2 separate regions of the Homo sapiens genome follow, and region 1 is linked to region 2. A link means that fine-mapping ties the variant in region 2 to the plasma level of a protein whose gene starts in the linked region. Region 2 holds a variant in brackets. A gene starts in the other region. All regions are shown on their reverse strands.

Region 1 (8,310 bases), not on the chromosome of region 2:
ATGTGAGAATCCTTTTCCTCCTTTACAATCAGCTTAATGGAGTTTCCAAAGGCAAAGAGATCAGTGTATATGTTCAGTATGGCATCTTAAACTGGAAATCTCTCCATCTGTTTTATAAAGAATTGGGGATATAACTCAAGGCATTTATCTGCTGCCCTTAATTATTGCCATAATTTGAGGTGAATTAAGTTCCCAGATGAACATCCCAAAGGATATCTTAGCCTCTCACTGCTTTGCCAACTATATCTCTAAGGACCTTCACTTCTTTCTTCTATCTCAGCTACTTACTTCTGTGACCATACCTTAGGCCTCGTTGTAACTTGAACTGAAATCTTAAATACAACCTGCTGCTATCTGGTAAAAACCTCTTTTATTTCCCACCTTATTACTAGTTACTACTAGGACTCATACTTTGAACTCATCAAAATGTCCAGTTTTTTAGCCCATGTATTTTTTCCTTCCATCTTCAACTCCTCCTAGTTCCAGCTGGATCACACATGCCAATCACTGTGCCAATATATACCCTCCTCTGAGAGCCCTAAACATAGGTTAAATTGTGTTATAATGTAAGACTATCTGGGTTTATCCCATCCCTACCACTCAAAAGTTATGGGACTTTGGGGAAGTTATTTAGATTTTGTGTGCATCCATGTCCTCATCTGTAAAATGAGGATAATAATAGTACGAATGTTCTGGGGATAAAAGGAGATAGCACGTGCAAGTGCTGAGAAAAAAACGTCATGATCAATAAGAGTATTCAATAGACATGAACTAGTAGTAGTAATATTCTCTAATCTAAAAATGCTAGTGAAAAAACAATATGTGTTAACAAGTTATGTTAGTCTATAGGTGCTTACACATTCTATTTATACTATTTAAACAGTCTTCTTGTTGGTTAACCACTTCTAAAAAGATGTAGTATTTCCCTATTTAAATGACAATGAAGCACTGATTTATCTTCTGAGTCTTTGTGTCCTCAGCACTCAAAGAAATGGGTTGTGTCTCTGTTCTGTTTCTTTTCTAACCCCATTTTGATAGTTAACCCTTTGGGTCTCCAAGGAGCACTTGCCCTAATTATGATAGGATAATGAAACACTGACATCTAATTATAACATTTATGAAGGTAGTAGATGCCAATTACAAACTAGGAGGCATGTGGCTTTATATTCTTCCTTATGTAACAATTGTGGTTTTAGAAAAGAGATCAGATTCAAAAAATAGTTTGAGCTATATCATTTCCCACTGATGCTATATTATGCCACTTCTTCCAGATCTATAACTATGTGATAGTTATTTTGAGCTTTGAAGACCTCAGGACTCTTTCTAGCTTGGAACTCAAAAATCTCTTTGACGATGGGTATTTTGTTGAATCCTTTCATTTAAGCAAGTCCCTGGAGGAAGAGCTTTTAACCCAGGCACTATATAAATAATCATCGGATTAATAGACCCCGATTAAAAAAAAACTGTAAACAAATTAATATTTTGAACACAGTCCTTGTAGAGTGAAATTGTGTTCTTTTGAGATATGTGTAACAAAGTACTTTGAGGATGTGAACATCATTAATATTTTAGCCTTAATTATTTTACCCTCACAACCTTAAGTGTCCCCCAACAGCAAATCAGTGAAATGTCAATTATAATTTTAAAAAAAATTTATCACTTTGGAATAAAACTTTAGGAAGTATCACAAAGAAGCAATGTAAGGTGGTAACACTGGGTCCTGTTAAAATCTTGGGCAAGTTATCCAGTTTTTCTAGGCTGTTTCCTAATCATCAAAATGAGTTTTGGTATGGATCAGATGAAATAATGCATTAAAATCACTTTGTAGATAACAGTAAACAATAAATGTTTATTGAATCTGAGGAATCAAATGGGTAGGATGTTAGGAGCTGTTAGGCTCTCTAGAAGCAAATTTTTACTTTAAAGAGTATAAAATCAGGCTTATGTTTACTGCACTTGTATCCTTATTCCCCTTGTAACTTGTCCTTAAATAATTTGTCATGGCTTTTGGTTAATAAACACATCTCTCTTTCATCTCCCCACCATAAAATAAAAAGATAACATCCTTATGCTCTCAGCATGGTCTTACCTTCAGACTCTAGAAATACATAGCTGGATGTGTTTTCTGGGAAAACATATAAATTAAAATCATTTTTGGCAGGTAAACATTGGCTACTAATAAATAGTTCTAGTAAGCTCTCCTCCTTATAACCTAAGGATTTATGTTATAGCTCACTTATCCAGTGGGCTTACCAGAATGCAGTCATATTCCAAAGTCAGCCTTACAAGGTCCCTCTCTGGAAAGAACTCAGTTGATGAGCCTCTACTCTCCTAATTGCTGCCCTTACATTTTTACATGACAAATCATCATCCTTTCTGGTTTTGCAGCATTTTAATAGACCCAGAGTTGCTTTCTGAGAAAAGTCTCAGTACTAACAAAGGTTAGAACTAACAAAGGTTGAACTAAGGATGACATGCATGTGGTATGTGCCCTTTCCAGTCCTCTTCCCAGGTCCATGAAGAAATCACCAACCAGTGAGAACACTCTTTCTACAGAACACAAACTCAGCTTCAGGCTATTTCTGAACAAGAGCTTTAGGAAGCAAAAGGAAACAAGTATGTAAGAACATTAAGAACATACCTGCCATACTTATACTAGAATGTAAGTTCCTTAAGGGCACAGACTGTGTCTGATTCATTTTTGTTTTCTCAACAAAAATGTTGATGGGGTGTTAACTAATTGTATAAAGTAGGAATAAGAGTCAGTTTCGTAAATGTTTTTTAAAAGTTGACAAAAGTATTTTCATTTTGATTCCAAAATTAAAAAAAGCTAATAAAGATATTACAATATTTTAAAAATCCAAATTTTATGAGAGTTCTTGTCTGGATGAAAATTAGAATACATTCACATTATCTCAAACGAATGAACATGTGTGACTTTATAAAAACAATACCTCCCTAAACCATGAATTCAGATGGAAAAACTCGACATCTTTATTTCTGCAGTCAGTCTCATTTTTCTTAAAACAGTTCAAACTAGTAAGAATTTTCCAGAAGTTACAGCTTGACTCACCCAACCTTCCAAGGAAAAAACAAAAAAACTTAAACAGACATTGTTTCACTCTCATCATTTCCCACCCTTACTAATAGTGGCAACTTAAGTGTATCTTAAAGCACTCCAACCTCTTCATAGAGCCTATTAAATGAGTATCTTGTGGACACCCACACACAGTCATAGAATCCTAAGTGGTGCTCAGACCAGTCACATGTCAGTGCATTCTTAATTGCTAGAGCTAACATGCTCTCAGCATGGTCTTTTAATTACACCCTAATAATTTATTATAGTTTCTCTCTACAATGTAAAGTCTTGGAAATCACCCACTAAAAAGTGCCTGTGTACTCTGGGGCTTTGGCAGGCTAGGGCAGAACTTCTGAGAACACGGTGTGTTCCAGAGAAGACAATCAATCTGAGAGGACTTACACAGAAACAGTTCATTCAGGACCTGGCTGCTGGCTTTTATCTGAGATCTGAGGATTTCACAATCACTTGGAGATACCTACAAGTGTATAGCACACCTTGGATATTACTCTTAATGATTACTTCATTTTGTAAAGAGGTGACTCCACCAACAGCAAAGGAGAGGGCCCAGCCCCAGCCACCAGGAATACAGTTCTCTGCCAGTAAGTGCCTAATGACTCATTTTCCTCAACAGAATTTTCATAAGGCTGGAATTCAGGGAGGGATGTCTGGAGAATGTCTGAAAGGAAGTTCACAAGCCACTGTCCTGCTCTTTGCTGGAGAAAGTGTCCCGTGGTAGCCAGAGAAGTTGACTAAGGCAAACAGCAACATGTTTTGGTAACATTTCCCCATTACCTTTCATGTACAATCCAAGAAAGGTTGCCATGAAGTGTTTTAATCAGGTTGGGAACATTATAAACTTCGAAAAAAGAAAACCATTAGTGGAAAAATTAAGGACACAGTAGATTTAACAACTGTGTTTACGTGGAACCACAAAATCTATCCAAGTGAATTGCATTAAAACAGACAGAACACTCCAAGAAACTGTTGTATGTGTATTTTTTTTAATTCAGTCAACCATTTTACTAATCTGTCAAGATGACCAATTTCTTTGGAATTATGTAGATTTAGCCAAAATGAAATTATACATAAGATTTACTTTTCTTTTCAGATGCTTTTTTATTTATTTTTAAATCTTTATAATTACTAGATGTTCTCCTCTCTCAGAAGATATTCTGAGAGGAAAGCAAAAATACCACTCTTGTAAAGCCATTTCCATTCTTCCAAAGGTCTGCTGGTAAATTATTCTTACTGATCTTTCCATCTTTCTAGCCTGTGCATACACACCTAACCCATACTAAATTTCACCAGATGGCATTTTATTTCTTTAAAGTAAAGCAGCCGTGGGTTTAGACAGTTGAATTTTTAAACTTCTGTATTTACTGAAAGTGCATATGGTGCTATATGGACAAAGAAATTGTGCTGAAAGAAAAACATTTCTGTCTGCAATACCTCATAATCTTCCAGAGGAAAAAAAAGTGCAGTTATATGGCACATTTCTCACAAAATCTTATGTGGCTTCAATGTTCTTCCTCTGTTAAAAAGTAGATATATGTTTAATGTACAGACCTGCAAGTTTCATTATTTTAAATTCATCTTTTAGTGGCAAATAAAAATGTTATGCAAAACCCAATGACTTGCTAAAGTGATCCTTCAGTGAATTCTAGAAGAAAATGCAACATAAACCTGAACTGGTAAAAAAGAAAAAATAAAAACCTCTGTATGTCAACGTAAGCAGATGTTGGTGTAGTTACAAGGATGAGAAGGCTATAAAACTTCCCTTGAGTCACTCACAGTTCATTTGAGGGCCAAGAACGCCCCCAAAATCTGTTTCTAATTTTACAGAAATCTTTTGAAACTTGGCACGGTATTCAAAAGTCCGTGGAAAGAAAAAAACCTTGTCCTGGCTTCAGCTTCCAACTACAAAGACAGACTTGGTCCTTTTCAACGGTTTTCACAGATCCAGTGACCCACGCTCTGAAGACAGAATTAGCTAACTTTCAAAAACATCTGGAAAAATGAAGGTTAGTATAAGCAACCTCAAGTATTCTTAAAAAATTAGGGTTGGCTGGATTGAACGTGATCAGAGTTTTCTATTGTTTAGAAGGTGAAGATTTGTACATAAGTATTTACTTCCTCAATGGGTTGGGATTGGAAAATTGTTCTAAATATACTGTAGAAACATTTGTCCTTGCAGAGCTGGAAGAATTCCAGCAATTATAGCCGGATCAGTGGAAAACAATCAAAAGCTTTGTGGGGCGAGAGAAAAAGGATTTAGGTGTAAACAAAATCTTGCCATTTCTACTATTTAGCAGGAACTGTGTGTATGCCTAATTCTCTTTATTTTATGTAGACTTGGGTAAAAATCGTATTTGGAGTTGCCACCTCTGCTGTGCTTGCCTTATTGGTGATGTGCATTGTCTTACGCCCTTCAAGAGGTAAGAACTTTCTCTGATTTGCTCTATCTGCCTAGAATAGCTTGGAAAATGTACTAATGCAAGATCACAAGTGGTTGAACATTTCCTAAGTGCTTATGTTCCAAAGTAAGTCTGTTATTTCTAAGAAGACATATAAGCTCACAGATATGTTGTTGTGCAAGACCAGAAATACTGAGGAATTTAAGGCATGGGTAGGAAGAGATTTACAGTGTTATTTCAGCAATAGAAAAACCTAAGAACTATGCTGCATCACCCCCACAACCCCCAAAAATATATGCTAAATACAAGCTTTGACAGGCCTTTAGAAACAACATTTTTAACTAACATTGCTTTTCATTATTAGGTTTGTCTCGTGGAAAGTAAAAATGAGTAAGAATGGAAAAGTTAAAACAGAATCTATGGACTTTTTTTATTACTAAATAGTCTTTCCAAAAATTTAGGGAGGAAGTTGAGAATACAGATCTCAGGAATAGCTGTATAGAAAAAGCAAAGTTGTTGTTTTAGATGTAGTAGCACTGCACATCAAATTAGAAAACCAAACATTGTTAAGCAAGCATTTTGATCAGTCATAAATTGGATCCTTTTACAAAAAAGGCTTAGATTGACACTGATCTCACTTTGCTAAAAATTGGAAGGTACTATGGGCTGATATCAGAGCTAGTTTAAATATAAAGTAGGACTATGTTGATAGATAATCTAGTGATATTAGGGAAATAGCTTTTTATGAAAATATTTATGAAGAGAAACTCAAGCTTCTGAAATGGAAAAAAAATCCAGTAATAACAGGTCTTATGTCTTTGTGTCTAGGAAAGGGGAAAAATTTGTACTAATAAATACTAAAAGTTTATGATAACAAATGTGGGAAATATCTTGGTTAAAAGTTAACTGATAGTAAATGAAGATCAATAAAATAACTTCAGCTAAAGAATGTATGAGTCCTGAATGACTGGACTGTTGCTATTAAAAAGAACATAGAAAAATGTTTTCGAAAATTAAAAATAATCATGAGATTTTCACAGAATTACAAAATAGAATAGGTTAACCCATAAGATGAAGTCAGCTGATATCTTCAGTGTTAATTTCAGTCTTTGTTTCTGCTCTCTGCCAGCACAAGATTCTTCTTAGGCTGTTGAGAGGTATGTAGTGTGTGTACATATCTTTCATAAATTTTCATGTTAAAATTGTTTTCAGACTCATCTCTGAACTCAGTGGTCTTGGGGCCACATTTCCCTCATACCAGCAATTGTCAGGTAGTGGATTAGGTCATATAGATCCTTTGAATGTTAATTCATTAAAAATTAGCTCCTGATTTTTAAAGAAACTCAACCTTGAAATTGATACTCTGCACCCTCAGAAATAAATGTTCTTGGAACAAAAGTTTGTTAATTTTATAGGGCACTTGCCTCCATGTCCATAGGGAAGGATGAATTTCACTATGGAATTCAAGCTATAATTTCTAATAAGAAATGCATTATATTTACATATTTACAAATGATGTATAGAGATACACATACACAGATATTTGTGTGATCACATATAATCTCAATCCCTACCCTCTTTCCAAGTTTAGTTATGTATAGCTTACATATAAATATACGTCGTAAACTATATATAGTATAAAAGTCCTATGTAATTTATAATACAATTCTATTTTCAACTAACAGGAAAATTCTAAGAATAAAGTGATTTCTTGATAGGGTGAAATAATCAAATTAAACTCAAGTACTCAGTGAAATTTGAGTACTCATTCAGAAATAGAAAAATCATAAATAAGGTGAGAACTGTTGTTTTTTGGTTCATTATATCATTCTCTTTCTCTTCTAAATTTGCTGAATAACTTCTCAGAATGTCAGCTAAACAGCTTGTGAATGGCACTAGTCATTACCCTACTTTCCTGAGCAGGACCCGGGGAAGTCAGTGCCACAGGCAGCCCTGAAGTTAGGCGTGGTGGCCTCCTAATTTTCCTCCTTTCTTCTCACATCTCACTGGTCAATCAATCATCTCCCGTCTGGAGTGCCAGGTCCAGTCCTCACTCTCACATCTGCCCAGTGCCTATGAGAATAGGATCTGAGATGGCAAGGCAGGAAAGGGAAGGAGGAAGGGGTAAAAAGAACAGAGAATTCAAAGCTAAGCGAGCTCCTACTTAGCCTCTTTCTCACATTCATCAGAAATCCCATTACTTCACATTTGCCTTAGGTGCCCTCATATCCTCAGCCCAGAATTTTATGCACCAGTGTATGAACTGTCTTCTTCTGAGAAACTTAAAGCCACACTCAGGAAACATTCATTCATTCATTTACATATTAGTGTATTAGTTCTACTAACTCCCTGCTCATCATCATGCCAGTTGCTGAGGATATGGAGGTGCAGCAGTCTAGAATTCCCTCTGCAAGTTGGGGAGTAAGAATCCAGTGCTTTCTGCACCCAAAGATGCATGGTCAGCACCACAGATACCAGAGAAGGATTTGTGTTATTTCACATCACGTCTAAAGGAAAGAAAAAAGAGAAAGGCTCTTCCATCCCAGGAGAACCAGCTTCAGGATTAAAAGGGTTTAGGAATAATTAAACTGGATTATAAGAACAAATATGAAATGTAGTAGTGAAATGAGAAAATCCATTTAGCTCACTTACAAAATATTAACTATAAGGAAAAACTTTTTTCGAAACTTGTAAAATATTCCCTTTTTAGTTTTGCCAAAGTGTGAAGCACACATGAATTTCTACCCCTTACTCCCAGGTTGTCCTTGCCTTCAGCTTACACCCCTTCAACTGACTCCTTTCCTCTCTCCTACC
Region 2 (8,341 bases):
GCAATCTTTTTTTGTAAATATTGCAAGTTTTTGCTGCTGTTTTGAAATAATCAAAGACAAAACAGGTAATATAAAGTTACAATCTAAGGCTAAGGCAAATTTGTTTATACTATTAGTCATTTGGTTCATTCGAATGCCTGATAATAGAGTTGAGTGCAAGATTATTGGTAGTAAAAAGCAGGACTTTTCACTGGAGACTCTTTAAATGTCCAGGTACCCCTGGCAGTCTTTCCATGCTGTTTTTAGGGGGCAACTTATACCTCACTTGTAACTTGGAGACCTTATTGAAATACTTCAGGATCTTACTTCGAGTCTTTCAGCCCTTACTGTGAGTTTCTCTCATCAAAAGAAGTAATGTTTCTATAGGGTTTCACTAAAATAATACTAATTTGGCCTGGGCGCGGTGGCTCACGCCTGTAATCCCAGCAGTTTGGGAGGCTGAGGCGGGTGGATTGCCTGAGGTCAGGAGTTCGAGACCAGCCTGGCCAACATAGTGAAATCCCATCTCTACTAAAAATACAAAAAATTATCCAGGCGTGGTGGCGTGTGCCTGTAATCCCAGCTACTAGGGAGGCTGAGGGGGGAGAATTGCTTGAACCCGGGAGGCGGAGGTTGCAGTGAGCCGAGATCGCGCCATTGCACTCCAGCCTGGGCAACAAAAGCAACACTCCATCTCACAAAAAAAAAAAAAAAAAAGGATACTAATTTGGAAATACTAATTGTAAATTATTTTCTACAGCCCAAAACTAGTTACACTGTATTTCCTATGAACATTTTTTGTGGAATGCTTCAAGAGCTACAGTACTCAGACCCACTTATTTGATTTTATGTGAAGTCTTAGTTCTAATTAGTATAAAGCAAATAAAGATACTTTTTTCTCAGAAGAGAAAAATCAAGCAGAGTCATAATTACTTTGGCATATAGCACAATGAAAAGGAGTCATCATTTTAGGGGATATTTTTTGCTTCTGTAATGAAATAAGTGGAGTTAAATTTGTGCAGCAATATCCAATGGGCTATTTTTCTCTGGGCAGGTAGTAAGTTTTCAGTTTGTGATACCCAGTAAACAGTGAGTTGTGTCTGTTAAATGTCACTAGTACTTCTCATTATTTTTAGAAGTCACAAGCTGTAACTGACAAGTCAGAATACAGAGATAAGTTAGAACAACTCTGCTTTAGTATCAGCAAGTCTCCAGTTACCCTGCATTAATGAGTGTTTTATTAGACTATTTCTGGAGATTGGTTCAATTATAAGCAAGCAGAGCTATCAGAAAATGCCAGGTTAGCTGATCTGATTTCAGAGCCCATCTTTCCAAATCAAGCTTTCCTGTTTCCAAATATGATGAAAATGTTTGGCAATTTTGTCAATTAATTGTATTATTTATGTTAATTTATTGTCATATTTTTTAAAACTTTGTTCTTTATGTTTCTGTATTGTTTTTATTGGAAAGTCAGTAAAGAAAAGTAAATAGGGAATAGAGATGCTTACTTCTCAATAAGTTGACTTTGAAAGTGGTTTTTTTAATTAATATATTTCTATGTTCAGGGATTAGATTATATAGTGCCAGTGAGGTACCTGGGGATTAGGAAAGAAGAGGCAAGTTAGATGGGACTGACTCACTACCTACTGTGCTAACGAGGCACCAGGGAAGCATGTTATAATTTAGGGTATGTGGGCTATCATTTCATTAGATTACAGTTGCCAGGGTAAGCAGATCGTGGGGAAGAAAGAGGGTTTCTCCACCATCCATTCTGCTGAGGCTGCTTCAATTTTCTCTCTACACAGCCCTAATCTCTTAGACCCAGAACTTTTAAATTCCTAGAAGAAGAGGGGCCTAAATATATCTTACATACTTTTCCTTTCCCCTCTTCATTTAAATTGACTAAAATTAAATGTTCAACATCTTCATCTTATGTTTCATGTAGTGAACTGCTTAATGTTATCTGTCTTGATTTGGCTTTTGTTTTTTTCCCCTTAGAATTGCTACAAACTAGTGACCTTAAATCTAGGGGATATCTTTGGCAATTAGAAGACCTCAAAATGGTTTTGGGTCTTGAAATGGCTTGTAGAGTATCAGCAGGTTTTTTATTTTTTTATTTTTTTTATTTTTTTGAGACAGGGTCTCTCTCTCTATTGCCCAGGCTGAAGTGCAGTGGCGCGATCTTGGGTCAGCAAAGCCTCTGCCTCTCAGGTTCAAGCAATTCTCCCACCTCAGTCTCCCGAGTAGGTTTGGGATTACAGGCGCACCACCACGCTTGGCTAATTTTTGTATTTTTAGTAGAGACAGGGTTTCACCATGTTGGCCAGGCTGGTCCCGAACTCCTGACCTCGTGATCCACCTGCATCGGCCTCCCAAAGTGCTGAGATTACAGGCGTGAGCCACCGCGCCCGGCCCAGGTTTTGATTTTGTAAGCTGTCTCCATTAGTTGAGACAGTTGTCAGCCAAAAGCCTTAGCTCACGTTGTATTCTTTCTGCCTGGCAAGTCAAGAGACCCTGTTTCAAGATGATTCCACCCTCTTGTTCTTCTTCCAAAAAACACTAAAGCCTTCAGAACCACTTTTCAAAAATAGGAACATTTATCTTGCTGATCTTTCCTTCTTCTAATTCTTGATGAAGGAAAGGAAAAAAGTGCATCGCAATACTGAAATTTAATCACTAGTCTAAAAGTCTTTAACAGTCTTCACAAAGGCATTAAATACTTTTTTCTATTTTTAGTAATTGTATTTGAGTTGCTGAAACACTGAAAGCATTTAAACAGTTTCTTCATCCTTCATTTCCAAATATAAGACAATTTTTTATGAGAATATAGGCAGAGCTGAAGTGACCATTTGAGAAAAGTTTAACTGGTAATTTCTTTTTTTTTTTTTGGTCGGAGTCTCGCTCTGTCACCCAGGCTGGAGCGCAGTAGCACGATCTCGGCTCACTGCAAGCTCTGCCTTCTGGGTTCATACCATTCTCCTGCCTCAACCTCCCAATTAGCTGGGACTACAGGCGCTTGCCACCACGCCTGGCTAATTTTTTTTTGTATTTTTTTGTAGAAACGGGGTTTCACTGTGTTAGCCAGGACCATCTGGATCTCCTGATCTCGTGATCCACCCACTTCGGCCTCCCAAAGTGCTGGGATTACAGGCATGAGCCACCGTGCCCAGCTGATAATTTCTTTAAAATAGTCTATAGCAAATGTATTTTTTTTTTTTTTTGACAGAGTCTCACTCTGTTGCCAGGCTAGAGTGCAGTGGCGTGATCTCGGCTCACTGCAACCTCCGCCTCCTGGGTTCAAGCAATTCTCCTGCCTCAGCCTCCCGAGTAGCTGGAACTACAGGCGCCCGCCACTACGCCCAGCTAATTTTTGTATTTTTATTAGAGACGGGGTTTCACCATCTTGGCCAGGCTGGTCTCGAACTCCTGACCTCATGATCTGCCCATCTCAGCCTCCC[A/G]AGGTGCTGGGATTACAGGTGTGAGCCACTGCGCCCGGCCTAGCAAATGTATTCTTGGTTTTGTTTTCAGATATCATATGACCTCAAGTTCATTTTTTGTAGAAATTATTATAATGTTTCCAAAGTTTAAATTATCTTACGGTTATTTCAAGGTGTCAATAATATCACACTGTCCCAGAGTCAGCAGGTATTCTCACAGTGACTCATGAGGCCATTTTTAGTTTTCCCATTTGTATGATTGGACACTGCCTGGAATAGTGTCCTGGAATAAGTGTCAGGAATATCTTCCTTTTGTTCTGGAGTTCTCACTGCCATGAAGGGCAGTATTCATATTGGGAAATGGAGATAACGGAAGATCCAGAGAACACAAATTGGCTTTGAGTCATGTGATTAGGCTTCCTGAGAGGTTCAGTGTCACCCTGACTATCTCCTTAGAAGTGTGGATGTTGAACCAGAACAGTGCTCCAGAAGGAGTGCTCAGTTTCATAGAGCAATCTGTGTTTTTTAGAAAAAGAATCCTTTTGCTAATGTAGTGAATATTGGGGGCAAGTTGAAATTTTGCATTTCCTAACGTCTTTTATTTATGCCTAGATGATGGACCATTTGGATTGTGCAACAAATGAAGAAAACCCTGTGATATCTGGTGAACAGATTGTCCAGCAATAATATTATGTGGAACTGCTATAATGTGTCATTGATTTTCTACAAATAGACTTCGACTTTTTAAATTGACTTTTGAATTGACAATCTGAAAGAGTCTTCAATGATATGCTTGCAAAAATATATTTTTATGAGCTGGTACTGACAGTTACATCATAAATAACTAAAACGCTTTGCTTTTAATGTTAAAGTTGTGCCTTCACATTAAATAAAACATATGGTCTGTGTAGTTTCCGAGATGTACTATATACAGTATATTTTTCTAAAAAAAAATGCCTTGACCCACCCCTATACTTTTTTTTAACGAAATCTGTTTCTTTCAGCTCTGATGGTAGATACAAGTAGTTACTATTTCTGAATGGGTTTTACTGTAAAGAATTATGCAAATTGGCCAGGCGCGGTGGCTCACGCCTGTAATCCCAACACTTTGGGAGGCCAAGGCGGGCGGATCACGAGGTCAGGAGATCGAGACCATCCTGGCTAACACGGTGAAACCCCTCTCTACTAAAAATACCAAAAATTAGCTGGGCGTGGTGGAGGGTGCCTGTAGTCCCAGCTACTGGGAAGGCTGAGACAGGAGAATGGCGTGAACCCGGGAAGTGGAGCTTGCAGTGAGCCAAGATCACGCCACTGCACTCCAGCCTGGGCGACAGAGTGAGACTCCATCCCAAAAAAAAAGATTTATGCAAATTATATCTGCTCTGTAGAAATAACTGTTTAACACCATGCAAGAAGGCGGTTCAACGGTGAAAATTTGGACCTTATATCACTGCAGAGGTTAGAAATACATAATTTTGGAAATATAAGTGCATATTTTTGTAGTATTTTTTTAAACCCAATCCTTTCATAAACTTGAGAACTGAAATTACTTCAGACTGCACGTGTATTATATTAAGAACATTTTTCCAGATATAGAGAAACATAATATATAGAACTAGTCACTAAAAGGAGACAGACACTGAAATCTAGTTTTCATTGGTTTGACAGCCTTTTTTTTTTAAATGTAGCTTAAATTTCAGTACTAACATTCAGTTTCACTTTGGTATTTCTGATCTTTGCAATTTGGTTCTGTTAATGTTAAGGTTTGATTTTTTAAAAAAATTATTTTTCTTAAGAAATTATGTATTAATACATATGGCTCATCGTTGAATACAGCATTCCTAACATTATCCCACATTCCCCCACTCCCACCCGTTATCTTTTTTTCTTCCTGATGCCCACCCCTTTTCCCATAGGTAATGATTCTTAATCTTGGTGGAGGATGTACAAAGTGCGGTTCAGAGAAAAGAATTGGCAACAACAGCAAGAGACTTGGTGTTAGTCTCAGTTTAATTACAATACAAGGAAGAGTTGAGTAATTTGCCGCATCTCAAGACCTTGTATCTCAGTTTTCTTTTTTTTTTTTTTTTTTTTTTTGAGACGGAGTCTCGCTCTGTCGCCCAGGCTGGAGTGCAGTGGCGGGATCTCGGCTCACTGCAAGCTCCGCCTCCCGGGTTCACGCCATTCTCCTGCCTCAGCCTCCCAAGTAGCTAGGACTACAGGCGCCCGCCACTACGCCCGGCTATTTTTTGTAGTTTTAGTAGAGACGGGGTTTCACCGTTTTAGCCGGGATGGTCTCGATCTCCTGACCTCGTGATCCGCCCGCCTCGGCCTCCCAAAGTGCTGGGATTACAGGCGTGAGCCACCGCGCCCGGCCATATCTCAGTTTTCTAATCTGTAAAATGAGTAGGTTAGACCAGCTAATCACTCTGGTACCTTCCAACTTGAAAAAAGTTTTTTCCCCATTCTTTGGTAAATTTTAGATGTGGCCTGAACATTCTCCTGGAAGTCAGAGGTCAAATTATCTTTCCATTTTCTTTTATTTTAGTAAGAATTTCGCAAATGACAAGTGATAACAAAGGCAGCAGGATTTTTCATTTCTCTGTAAATAATGTATAAAATATGTGAACAGAACTATATCTTTCATCTAAGGCCAGTTCAATTTATTAAAAATAAAACTAATGCCTTTTAAAATTGATCAGACCTTTGATACTTGAACTAAATTTTGCATTAGAGACTTTTTAAAAATTGTTCGCTTTTGCTGAATAAATTGCAAATAGAGAAGCTTCATTGACAGTCAGTCCCTCTCTGCTTAATGCAGTTATGGGTCCTTTCGTTTATGGCAAATGACTTACCTGACAAGAGTTAATTTTGCCTCCATTGTATCAAGTTTGAATATTTTCCAAGAAATCTGATTTATTTGGCAGACTCTGAGAGAGAGAACAGATTAAGTGCCGTTTTAAAACTCTGTATTTTCATTTATAATAATAAAATATTTGCCAAAATACAGCTGTTTTGTAAAATTATCTGCACCCTCATCCAAGCTTTATATTTAATAGCCTTAATCACATTTTATGAAGAATGTTAAAGAAAATTTTTTTTTTACTACATCGAAATGAGATAATTAATTTCTTTTTTTTTTTTTTGGAAATGGAGTCTCCCTCTGTCACCCAGGCTGGAGTGCAGTAGCAAGATCTTGGCTCACTACAACCTCTGCCTCCTGGTTCAAGCAATTTTCCTGCCTCAGCCTCCCAAGTAGACGGGATTACAGGTGCGTGCCACCACACCTGGCTAATTTTTGTATTTTTAGTAGAGACGGGGTTTCACCTTGTTGGTCAGGCTGGTCTTGAGCTCCTGACCTCATGATCTGCCCGCCTCAGACTCCCCAAGTGCTGGGATTGCAGGCATGAGCCACCGCGCCTGGCAAAATAAGATAATTTCTCAAAATAATTTGGTTTCATATAACTGGAGTAGTAATTAATATTTTAACTTCATCAACTAGATGTATCTCCTCAGTAGCATAGTAACTGGTACATCCAGAAATCTGAAATCCGAGTTACTTGATACAAATTCTACTTTATCTAACCATTAGTTATTAAGGAGGTAAAATCTTGTTCTAATTTGCTATTAAAATCTTATTGGTTAAATAGAAATAAGAAAAAGTATAATTAAGTTTCTTCATCCTCAATGTCAACTTTATATTGTAATTAAATGTGTAGCAACCAAGCTGACAATAGTGATTAAGAAATTAAAGTACAGAAATATTTTATTTGGGGACTCAAAATGAACAAAAGATAGATAAGATTAAAATTTCACTTAAAAAGCTGCCATCTCTTCCTCTCTTGCCCTCCCACCACCAATAACTTTAAGGGGAAGAGAAGCTGGTTTTTTCCCTAAACATGTCTTTAAAATAATGATACACTGTATTTATTAATTCTTGATGCAAAAAAAAAAAAGTTAGAAAATCCCTTTGAACATTTTTGTGGCTTATCAACAGAAATCACTATCTCAAATTGTAATGTAGATTACTTTTGTCTCAGTTTAGTTTAGCAAAAATAAATGTGAGGCTTGTGGGGAAAGACCTTGATATTCTAATACATTATATTTTCTTCTAGCTTGTAGATTTTTTTTTTTTTTTTTTTTTGAGACAGAGTTTCGCTCTTTTTGCCCAGGCTGGAGTGCAATGGCATGATATCAGCTCACTGCAATCTCCGACTCCCGGGTTCAAGCAATTCTCCTGACTCAGCCTCCTGAGTAGCTGGGATTATAGGCATGTGCCACCACACCCGGCTAATATAGTATTTTTAGTAGAGACGGGGTTTCTCCATGTTGATCAGGCTGGTCTCGAACTCCCAACCTGAGGTGATCCGCCCGCCTCAGCCTCCTAAAGTGCTGGGATTACAGGCATGAGCCACCGTGCCTGGCACTTGTAGATTTTTTTTTAGATTAGCAATTCCTTAGTAGAATCTGCAATTTATTTCTCTTTTAAAGAGAATTTTAACCCATCTGCTATTGGCATTCTTATATTTTACTTGTCCATAGAGATTTTAGTGAATTGATACATTTATAATAAATACAAATGAGCTTTCCAGTTTTCTTTGCTCTTTCAATTTATGCTTTAGTATAAGCAAAAATTACTATTTTTACATTTTTAAAAATTGTGGGTACATGTAGGTGTATATATTTATGGAGTGCATGAGATGTTTTGATACAGGTATGCAATGTGAAATAAGCGGATCATGGAGAATGGGGTATCCATTCCCTCAAGCATTTATCCTTTGAGTTATAGACATATTTTACATTTGAATAAAAAATATTTGAACTAAGGCCGGGTGCGGTGGCTCACACCTGTAATCCCAGCACTTTGGGAGGCCAAGGCGGGTGGATCATGAGGTCAGGAGTTTGAGACCAGCCTGACCAACATG

Alleles and levels. Alleles are on the strand shown, and positions count from the first base shown. The strength of an association depends on the size of the effect and on how common the allele is.
As copies of G replace A in region 2, the plasma level of the protein whose gene starts at base 4,980 in region 1 goes up (weak association).

What was found. A credible set is the group of variants that fine-mapping cannot tell apart. PIP is the posterior inclusion probability: the model's chance that the variant is causal. The UK Biobank Pharma Proteomics Project read protein levels with antibody pairs (Olink). The fine-mapping took linkage between variants from a reference panel, not from the people measured, so its PIPs are less certain.
Region 1: FAP starts here. The variant in region 2 is the best candidate, but not a certain one, in a credible set for the plasma level of the FAP protein (UK Biobank, PIP 0.78).

Annotation. Positions count from the first base shown.
Region 1 is chr2:162,240,115-162,248,424 of GRCh38, reverse strand. It overlaps FAP (fibroblast activation protein alpha), which reads left to right and starts at 4,980. Exons shown (of 26, transcript NM_004460.5): 1 at 4,980-5,103; 2 at 5,433-5,517. The coding sequence starts at 5,098. It overlaps LOC105373724 (a long non-coding RNA gene), which reads right to left and starts at 2,308. Exons shown (of 4, transcript XR_923544.3): 1 at 2,254-2,308; 2 at 1-107.
Region 2 is chr15:50,703,562-50,711,902 of GRCh38, reverse strand. It overlaps SPPL2A (signal peptide peptidase like 2A), which reads left to right. Exons shown (of 15, transcript NM_032802.4): 15 at 4,029-8,341. The coding sequence ends at 4,103. Among named protein-coding and RNA genes, the nearest start is that of TRPM7, 21 kb to the right of the region's middle. RefSeq lists a silencer at 1,024-1,224. The variant A/G (reference allele first, on the strand shown) is at 3,438.